Regions from separate parts of the Homo sapiens genome. Here region 2 is linked to region 1. The links come from fine-mapping of genetic effects on gene expression. A gene starts in region 1. The other region holds a variant in brackets. All regions are shown on one strand. Distances are between the middles of the regions. Region 1 holds the start of TXNDC11 (thioredoxin domain containing 11). Region 2 overlaps TXNDC11 (thioredoxin domain containing 11).

The links. PIP is the estimated chance that this variant, and not a neighbour inherited with it, causes the effect.
Region 2: its variant is the best candidate, but not a certain one, in a credible set for the expression of TXNDC11 in whole blood (TOPMed, PIP 0.88).

What each region holds. Positions count from the first base shown.
Region 1 is chr16:11,740,164-11,745,544 of GRCh38, reverse strand. It overlaps TXNDC11 (thioredoxin domain containing 11), which reads left to right and starts at 2,688. Exons shown (of 12, transcript NM_015914.7): 1 at 2,688-3,068. The coding sequence starts at 2,815. It overlaps TXNDC11-AS1 (TXNDC11 antisense RNA 1), which reads right to left and starts at 2,531. Exons shown (of 1, transcript NR_186412.1): 1 at 1,039-2,531. RefSeq lists silencers at 2,186-2,708, 2,571-3,240.
Region 2 is chr16:11,699,310-11,704,690 of GRCh38, reverse strand. It overlaps TXNDC11 (thioredoxin domain containing 11), which reads left to right. Exons shown (of 12, transcript NM_015914.7): 6 at 4,127-4,239. Among named protein-coding and RNA genes, the nearest start is that of SNN, 34 kb to the right of the region's middle. The variant G/T (reference allele first, on the strand shown) is at 2,968.

The sequences.
Region 1 (5,381 bases):
GTTGTAGTGAGCCAAGATGGTGCCACTGCACTCCAGCCTGGGTGACAGGGCAAGACTCTGTCAAAGAAAAGAAACAGTACAATAAAAACAGTATCATAATTTTCTGGGACCACTGTCACAGCACATGACACATATATATTCCTCTGCCCCATTCCCTCCTCAAACCCCGAGCAACTTGATCTTGGTATAAAAAGTGGCCAAGAGGCTGGGCGTGGTGGCTCATGCCTGTAGTCCTAGCACTTTGGGAGGCCGAGGCGGGTGGATCACCTTAGGTCAGGAGTTTGAGACCAGCCTGGCCAACATGGTGAAACCCTATCTCTACTAAAAATATAAAAATTAGCCAGGCGTGGTGGTGGGCACCTGTAATCCCAGCTACTTGGGAGGCTGAGGCAGGAGAATTGCTTGAATCCAAGAGACGGAGGTTGCAGTGAGCCGACCTGGTGCCACTGCACTCCAGCCTGGGCGATAGAGTGAGACTCCATCTCAAAGAAAAAAAAAAAAAAAAGTGGCTATGGAAAACTCAGATACAAGTTGGTGTGGACGAGTTAGGGCTGACCTAACCTATGAAAAGTAGTACAGCCTGACCCGAAAGGCCTAGTGTATTTTGAAACAAATTTATAATTGTTTCAGAAGAACGTTCTGGGCCAGCTGCAGTGGCTCAGACTTGTGATCCCAGGACTCTCGGAGTCCAGAGCAGGAGGATCACTTGAGGCCAGGAGTTCAAGACCAGCCTGGGCAGCACAGTGAGATCCCATCTCTACAAAAAATAAAAAAGAGAACATTCTGCTGCCAGAGCAGGGCCCCAGTTGCTCAGAAAGTGAAGAGGAAAGGAGGCATTCTTTTGTTAATCCAGGGTGGTTTTCTGGTCAGTAAGACACTGCCTTGCATTTGCTCACAAAGGACTATGGGTTTTGTGAGATTAAACCACAGACAACGAAAGTACTTTGGACCTTATGAAGCCCTGTGCAAATGTCAGATGTCTTATGGAAGTGTAGGGTAAATTCTGTTGCAGCAAGCTACAGTGAATGAGGACACTGGTGACTTTTGACCATATTTATTTTCTTTAGCAATAAATTGTGTAACTCTAATCTACACAAAGGAATCAACAGAAGTATAAGTGGCAAATTAGAAGGTTAAAAAAACTCTGTAACTATATATTTTTTCTCAGCTTTTTAAAACAAGATTAACACTGTATGGTTGGGTTTGTAACATAGATAATAAGGGTAATAATAACACAAAACAGAGATGAGGGACAAGTTAAAAATAAAGGAATTAATGTTATACGAGAAAATAGCTACTTTCTACAAAATAAGGCAGTATAGAAGAAACAAAAAGATGTGACAGGTGGGCGCAGTGACTCATGCTTTTACATAATCCTAACGCTTTGGGAGGTCGAAGGGGGAAGATCGCTTGAGCCCAGGAGTTCAAGACCAGCCTAGGCAACATGGAGAGACCTTGTCTCCACAAAAAAAAAAAATTAGCTGGGCGTAGTCGCACACATCTGTGTTGCCTACTACTTGGGAGGCTGACGGGGGTGGATCGCTTGAGCTGGGGTTGTCAAGGCTTCAGTGTGCTATGATTGCGCCATTGCACTCCAGCCTGGGTGACACAAGACCCTGTATCAAAAAACAACCAAAAAAAAAAAAAAAGTGACATATAGAAAAGAAATAGCAAAATGGTCGGTGTACATGAACTCACAACATGTTGGGCCTGGGTGGTTGACACATTAAATGTCTGGCCAATTGAGCAAGACAGCCATTGATTGCCCCATTCTACATCCACAGAAGCAGAACCAGACAGGAAGTGATGAGATTTGCACGTGGGTCACATAGCTGACCTGTGGCAGAGGTGGCGTCTCAGCTACTGGCCGTTAGCTGTGCCTTCTGTTTGTGGCATAACACCATATTGCCTTAATGCCCTCGAAGTTTTATTTGTCTAGTTTGTTGTTATTGACATTGGAGGACAAGTCCTTTTTTTTTTTTTGAGACAAGAGTCTCTCTCTCTCTCTCCCCCAGACGGGAGTGCAGTGGCGCCATCTCCACTCACTGCAACCTCCGCCTCCAGGGTTCAAGCAATTCTCTGCCTCAGCCTCCCAAGCAGCTAGGATTACAGGCGCCCGCCACCACGCCCGGCTAATATATTTGTATTTTTAGTAGAGACGAGGTTTCACCATGTTGGCCAGGCTGGTCTTGAACGCCTGGTCTCATGTAATCTGCCCGCCTTGGCCTCCCAACGTGCTGGGATTACAGGCTTGAGCCACCGCGCCCGGCCGTGTTTTTTTTTTCTTCAGTTAAGTTGGGATAAAAAACGGCACCTACGTGCTTCGGGGCCTGTAGTGAGAATGGTGGACACGATTATTGTCGTTACGGCTCCTAAAACCCAGCGCGGCGAGAGCAGACTACAGCGGTGTCAAGGTTCCAAGTATTCCCCGCGGGCCTTATCCCAAGGGAGCAGCTTCTCCACGCCCCGCGACGGCGCCTGCGCAGACTCCGTGAGCGGGGTCGTGACCGGTGGGGCCAAGACTGGGCTGCGGGCGGGGAAGGCTTCCGTGCATTTACGTAGGGTGCAGGGCGTGGCCCGTTGGGGGCGGGGATTTGGGCGGTGTCGGTGCCCGCCCGGACTCCGTGAGCGGTGGGCGGAGCTGCGTGCTCTGGGGTGTGAGGTGGGGCGGACCCCGCGGCGGCGGCGCGGCTGACGTGGAGCGTCCGGGTTAGCGGGTGCGGCGAGCTGCGGGATTGGGGAGCAACGGGCCGGGCCGGGCCTTCGGGCCCGAGGCGGCGGCGGCGGTATAAAGCCGGCGACTGGGAGCATGTAATGTCGGAATGCGGAGGCCGCGGCGGCGGCAGCAGCAGCAGCGAGGACGCCGAGGACGAGGGAGGGGGCGGCGGCGGCCCCGCGGGCTCAGACTGCCTCAGCTCGAGCCCGACCCTGGCCACAGCGTCCTCGGCGGGCCGGCTCCGTCGCGGGCTGCGTGGCGCCTTCCTCATGGCGCGCCAGCGGCCGGAGCTGCTCTGCGGGGCCGTGGCGCTCGGCTGCGCGCTGCTCCTCGCCCTCAAGTTCACCTGCAGGTGAGGCGGCCCGGACCCTGGGGCCCCGCTAGGGCGCTCCCCTTGCTCTGCCGCCTGGAGCCTGCAGGGCCGGGTCGCAGCGGCCTCAGCCGGGGAAGTCGGGCCTGACCTTGCCCAGGACGGCTGACCCCTCCCGGAACCTGCGGCCACGGCTTCCCACCTTCTCCTCGCCCCGGCCCGCCCGCGGACATTATGGCGAGGCTTCCGGGTGGAGCCCTGCGCCCTATCGTCCCGCTTTAGTGCCGAGGGAGGCGGGTCGGGGGTGCTCCTCACCTGTTGGAGTCACTAGGGGTGGACCTGTCACTTCGGCCCGGGCTGTAGGACCCTCATTTCTCACCGATTTCATTCCCCTTAAGCTTCAGGTGTAGTGATCCACAACCTTGCGAGAGTTCCAGACCCCTTTTAGAATTCCCGCACTCATTGATCTAACGATTATTTTTATTTTGAGACGGAGTCACGCATTGTGTCCCAGGCAGGAGTGCAGTGGCGCGATCTCGGCTCACTGAAACCTCCGCCTCCCGGGTTCAAGGGGTTCTTCTGCCTCAGCTCCTGAGTAGCTCGGATTACAGGCGCGCGCCACCACGCCTGGCTAATTTTTGTATTTTTAGTAGAGACAGAGTTTCACCACGTTGGCCAGGCTGGTCTCGAACTCCTGACCTCACGTGATCCACCCGTCTCGGCCTCCCAAAGTGCTGGGATTACAGGCGAGAGCCCCGCACCCGGCCTGATCTAACGATTATTTATCTGCACCTACTATGTGCCGGACGCTCGTCCGGGTGAACTTTTTGCTCCCTTGAGTGGATGGGACAGTGAACAAGTAAATATAATTTTTTAAAGCTTCAGTGCTATGCAGGGCATAGAAACGATGGCGGTGGGGAAAGACTTCCTAAGGAAGTGACATTTGAAGCTTATACAAAAAGGAGAAGGGACCAGCGCTGGGAAGATCCCGGGGGAGCGTGTCCACGGTAGAGCGAACAGCAAATGCAGAGTTTCTGAGGCTGGGCAAGCTTGGTGTTTCCCTGGAATTGATAAAAAGGCCTGACAGTAGGCTGGGGTGTAGGGGGTAGGAACATGAAAGTTCATGTGTGTCTTTTCAGGAATGTACACACATACAAAATTTGCTGTATATTTCAGGTGTACTTCTGGTCTCCCAAATCCACAGTGGGTCTTTTGGGATTCCAGTTTATAAGATCTGTATTGCTACTATGATATCTGTGATTTCACCTCGGAACATTTTTGAGTTTATTTAGCACGATATGTGGCCAGTTGTCAAAGAGGTGTCAAAAGATCGGGGATTTTAGTGGAAAGATAAATTATAATAACTCTCAGTGAGCATTTTCCATAGGCCAGGTACTGTCAGCAGGGTTTCTCCGTCTTGGCACTGTTGATATTTTGGGTCAGATAATTCTGTGTTGTGGGGGCTGCCCTGACTACTGTAGGATGTCTAGCAGCATCCCCGGCCTCTACCCACTAGATACCAGTAGCACACCCCACAAGATGTAACAACTACAATGGCTTCAGACATTGTTAGATGTCCCCTGGGAGCAAAATTGCCTGCTTGGGAACCACTGTTTCCATGAAGCATTTATTCATTTAGTACATAATTGAGAGCCTAGTATGGGTGTCATTTAAATCTTACAATCCCCATTAAAGTTTGAATATACTGTTATCTTTCCCAGTGCACAGATGAAGGAGTCCAGCCTTCGTGATGTTTCAGAACCTGCTCCAAATCACACCTACGTGATAAGGGGCTGAGCTGGAATTTGAATCCTTTATTGTCAGGACCTCCTAGATTCTTAACCTTGTACTTTATTCTTGTCTCCCACAAGGACAGTATACAAAGTATTTTACAAGGTAGAGTGTTGCGAGGTGACATTTAGGTTCAAATTAGGAAGAGAGGTTTCCCCCTCCAGGGGTGAAGTTTATTTACATCGGTTTGTTAAAGTCTAGAAATAATGGTTAATGTTTGTTCTGAGACAGCATGGCTTAATTGATACAGAAGTCCTTTGAGATTGAAAAGGAAGGAAGAGAGTAAATCCAGTTACTAGAGTAGGCAGAATGAGATCCTTTCTTGCTTCAGGCAAGGAGAATGAACCAGTAAATGGCTGCTGCTTCATCTTCTTTCTGTGTCACTGGCAAATTTGACAGTCTTTTAATAGACTCGGATTAATTTTTTTAGGGTCATCTTTGATTGAATGGTGTCATGATACTGTTTATTGCTGTGCAACTGGCTAACATTTCTACCCCCGCTTTTCCTCTTTCAGTTTTAAGATCTTTGCTTTAATAAGGAGATAGGCTTAAGGGAGAATAGGA
Region 2 (5,381 bases), 41 kb after region 1:
TATTTTGTAGAAAATTGCTCAATTTTGTCTGTTTTCTTGTGACTGGAATAGGTCATGTCTTTTGACAGCAATACCATAGAAATAGGTACTTCTCAGCACTTCTTATCAGGGGGTTCATATGATGTCAGTGTGTCTCCTACTGGTGACATTAACTTTGATCAGTTGGTTAAAGTAGTGTCTGCTGTGTTTCTCCACTGAAAAGTTACTATCTCTTCCTTTGTAATTAATAAATAAATACCTTGGGGGAAGATCATTTGACACTATGTAAATATATCCTCAAACTTCTGCTCATGAATTTTAGCCTCCATCAGTGGATCTTGCCTGCAACAATTACTCTGGTGTTCAAATGGTTATTTTCTGTTTCTTTCATTCTTTTTTCATTATTAGTGGAATTCTCCCTTAAAGAAGAGCTGACTGTTCTCATTAATATTATTATGGAGTCATGGGTATTTATCTTATTCTGTGTACTGTCATTGTTTATTTTGTTGCTCAAATTGTTCCAACTTTGGCTACTAGGAGGGCTTCAGCTTGGCTCCTGGGTCCTTTGGACAAACCCCCATCCTTTTATGAGCACTTCTTTACTTCATTTATTTTTTTTGAGACGGAGTTTCACTCTTGTCACCCAGGCTGGAGTGCAATGGCAAAATCTCGGCTCACTGCAACCTGCACCTCCCGGGTTCAAGCAATTCTGCTGCCTCAGCCTCCCAGATAGCTGGAATTACAGGTGCGTGCCACCACATCCGGCTAATTCTTGTATTTTTAGTAGAGATGGGGTTTCACTATGTTGGCCAGGCTGGTCTCAAACTCATGACCTCAGGTGATCCACCCGCCTTGGCCTCCCAAAGTGCTGGGATTACAGGCGTGAGCCACCATGCCCAGCCCACTTCTTTACTTCTGATACAAGATATTTCAGGCTTATCTTGTACTTTCTTCACCCCAGCTCTGGAATCAACCTCTTCTCCAAGGGCCCTGGTTTCTTTTACTGGAGAATGGCATTTAGAAACCAAGATCTACGTGCTAGGTATGCTCTTTGGTATTAGGATGTCATTACTTCTAGGTCTTCTCAGTAGATAGAACTAGGAAGTGTATTATACCCACACATGTGCATATATCTGTATTTCTCTATCCATCCCCTCTCTCTCCCTCTGTGTGTGTGTGTGTGTGTGTGTGTGTGTGTGTGTATCAAAAGCCTTAAGTTTATACTCATTCTCTCTGATTTCAATTTAACATCACAGGGTTTATTTTAGCCTTCTCTTATTAATATATAACTTCTTACTGCAACAGTGAGAGTCCTGGCTGTAATTATGTATAATGTACTTACCACAAAGAAGTAAATAAGTTCATAGTTTCAGAATTGCTAACTTATACCTCTTTAAGAAACACATTTACTACCTAGATTTACAGCATTTATGTACAGTTCTTTTTGCCTTTAGTTTTACAGCATCCAGTCAAGATACTGTTTTCCAGTTACTTAGGTTCTTTCTTCCTGTCCCATTCACCATGGTGTTACCCGTTTGCAATAGTTAGGGTTATTTGTACGTGCTGTATTCCACGTTGGGTTTGCCACATCTCGCTTGGTTTTAACTAATTGTTTAATTTTGGAGTGTGTGAAGGGTGTGTGATACATCACTGTGGCCCTAGGAGTCAGATACAAAAAGGCCTACTCAGTGCCAGGCCTCCTCAGCCCTGCCTTCCCGTTTCCAGTCCCCTTTCCCCAGCCTGGCTTATTTGTCCTGTATTTCTTTTGTTTTGTGCCATTTTACACTCATCAGATTTGTATGAAAAATTATTGACTCTGGCAGTAGGGACATACTCACTCCGACCTCATCCTTGTCGGCCACTCCTTACCTGAGGGAGAGAGGACCACACCACTGAAAGATGGGGTCATGGGATAAAACTGGAAACTTTATGGGTTTAACACCTCAATATTTTTATATCTTAGCTACTTGTGTATAATTTGGTAATATTTGATGTTTAACTGTTTTTTAAAAAAAAATTTATTTATTTACTTTGGAGGCAGAGTCTCACTCTGTTGCCCAGGCTAGAGTGCAGTGGCACGATCTTGGGATCTCAGCTCGCGGCAACCTCTGCCTCCTGGGTTCAAGTGATTCTCATGCCTCAGCCTCCCAAGTAGCTGGGATTACAGGTGCCCACCACAACACACCCGGATAATTTTTATATTTTTAGTAGAGACAGGGTTTCACCATGTTGGCCAGGCTGGTCTTGAACTTCTGAGCTCAGGCAATCCACCCACCTCGGCCTCCCAAAGTGCTAGGATTAAGAGCATGAGCCCCTGCGCCTGGCCTGTAGTTTAACTGATGTTTTATTTAGCATGTGCTAATAAAGCAAAAAGGGGATAGGAAAGAATGTACCTTTTTCTGCAGTATCTTATTCACCCTCCTTTAACACTAAATACTTTATAATCACACAAATATTATACTCCATGAAAAAAAATGAAAGCTTCACACATAAGGATAAGGTCCCTGTTGATGTTCGTTCTCCAACATCAAACCACTTTCATTATCCTTTTAGATTCTTTATACATTTCTAAACATATGTGCCTGTAGGGGAAAAAACATATATATATATATATATATACACATACATACATACACACACACACATACACACACATAACTTTTATAAGTGTGAGTTCTTTTTTTTTTTTTGTTAACATCAAAAGTCTACTCTTTCAGCCTCTGTTTGTGGTGTATAGTCCTGCCTCATTGTTTTTAACATTTGCAGAATGTTTCTTGGTGAATATCCTTGCATGTGACTCCTAACAAACATGTGGATGCTTAGCAGTGGAAATCCCAGCTGTGTCCATTCTTGTAGTCGGTACAGCAGCTGCTTTCCTGAGTGGCTGTGCCGTTTTGCCTTTTTCCACCAGCATCACATCAAATACTCATTTCTTTACTTTCATCAATACTTGATGTTTCCTTTGTCTTAAATTCTTGGCAATTTGAG[G/T]GTCAAAAGTAGTCTTTTGTTTTAATTTGCTTCCTTTTGGGATAGTGAGGTTGAGTTTATTTCCAGTAATTATTAGCCATGTATACATATTTCCTTTTCTGTGGTTTGTCCATGTTAACAATTTTCCTTGTTGATTTGTATAAGTCTTTATATATGCTAGATTTGTTCATTTAATAAATATTTTTTGACCTCTTAACTATACACCCCGGCACTTCTGTAGGTGCTGGGATACTAGCATGAAACAAAGTCTCTAATTTCACAGAAATTACAGTCAGAAGAGGAAATTGGGCCGAGTGTGGTGGCTCACACCTGTAATTCTGGCACTTTGGGAGGCAGAGGCAGGCACATCACTTGAGGTCAGGAGTTCGAGACTGCCCTGGCCAACATGGTGAAACCCCGTCTCTACTAAAAATACAAAAATTAGCTGGGTGTGGTGGCACACGCCTGTAATTGCAGCTACTTGGGAGGCTGAAGCAGGAGAATTGCTTGAGCCCATGAGACGGAGGTTGTAGTGAGCCGATATCGCACCACTGCACTCCAACCTGGGCCACAGAGCGAGACTCCATCTCAAAAAAAAAAAAAAAAAAAAAAAAAAGAGGACATTGGGCCAAAGGAAATCTAAATAAATGAATGAGATTATGCAAATGTTAATAAGTGCTATAAAAAATAGGGTAATTGGTAAAGGGAGTACCTGAATGGGTCAGGAGCCCAGTTTCCCTTTGTAAACTCTCTCCCCTAAATATTAGCTGTTAGGTGGGGTGGTCAAGGAAGGCTTCTCACAGAAAGTAGGAGCTGAGATGAGTAATGACAAGGAACCAGCCACAAGAAGTGTCCAGACAAAGAGAACAGCATGTGCCTCAGCCTGTCATCAATGGGGACAGGTCAGACCATCATAGGTGGACACAGGGGACTCCTCAGCACAAGTGATTGTCAGAGACGTTAGTCAGAGACATCCTCTCAGAAGCAGGCTTGACATCTGAGGGGCCGAGGTCGGTTTCAGGAGGAGAGGTTCCTCAGCGCCTCTTCCTTCCCTCTCTAGGCTAGGTTACCAGAAGGAGCTTAGCTGCAGGGGTTTGTGCTTCAAGACTTGATCACTGGGTTTTGTGGTTGTTTTAAGGCACAGGCCTTTTCTTTAATAAAGGAAAATTTTCTGTTTCAGATTACCTAGGAACAGTACGATTTGGGGTTATCACAAATAAACATCTTGCGAAACTGGTATCCTTAGTACACTCTGGAAGTGTGTATTTACATAGACATTTCAACACATCACTTGTAAGTATTTTGAAATCACGTTTATGTTAGCGCAGTGGTTCTTAACCTTGTTTAGGTCACAGACTCCTTTGAGAATTGGTTAAAATCTATGGACACTCTCTAGAAAAGCGCATATGATTTTATATATGGATGGAGAGTTCTTACAGCCCCACCCTAGAGCCCAGGCTCCAGGTTAAGAACCCATGCATTAGAGGGCTCTTGAAATTAATGTATAGAAATTCTTTATTTGTATTCTTAGATTTTGGTACAGACTTTAAAGTTTTTCTTCTTGGATAAAATTGCAGAGTTACTCTCTTGAAGAATTGTTACTCTGAGCCCGTGTTTTCAGAAGCTAGGCTTCCACTGAGTGATGTTCTGTGTTTATCTGTTTCTTTTATGATGAGTAGTAATGTGACATGCTTTTCTCCTTAGCTGATGTAATGGATTTTTGAAGTTCTTGTCAAGTCACAGTGAGAAGTTGATGGCTTCTCATCCCAGAGAGCGTCAGTTTTCCATTGTCGCCTTTGTTCCCCGATTTCATTTGCTTTCTGTGGAGCAGCCTGAACTCAGCTGCTTCTGAGCATTGACCTGTGTCCTGCTCAGTCCTATGCGTCTACTCTGTTGCTGCTTCCTAAGTCACATCACTGAGTTGACTTTCCTGAAGTATTCTGTCTCTCTCGCATCACTGTCAGTAACTTACAGGTCATATACAGATCAATTTCCCTGCACCCAGTGTACCCAGCCTTTAAAACCTGCGCCCCCCTTGGCACAATGTCTAAGTCTTGTGCCTTCGGAGGGGCTGTTGGGCCCACTCCAGGGGTGCCCCCTTGCTTGCCAGTCGCCCTGGCTTCTGCATATCTCTCGTAGCCCAGATGCTGTGCTTTACTTCTTGCAGTTTATATTCCAAAAGTCAAATGTATTTTTGTGTTTTCCGAATGGAAATGTTTGAGTGTAGTTTGAGTATGGTTTTTCAAACTCCCATCGTCCCACCTTGACAATCACTGCTGTGGTTGTTTCTCTGCTGCCCACCTACGCTCCTTGTGCCTCTGCCTAAGCTGCTTTGACATCATCTGCTTTTGCTATCTGTCATTTTCCTACATCCTTCATTTTTAGCATGTTACACAGCCTACATATATTTATTTATAGTAAAGGGTACTGAGAAA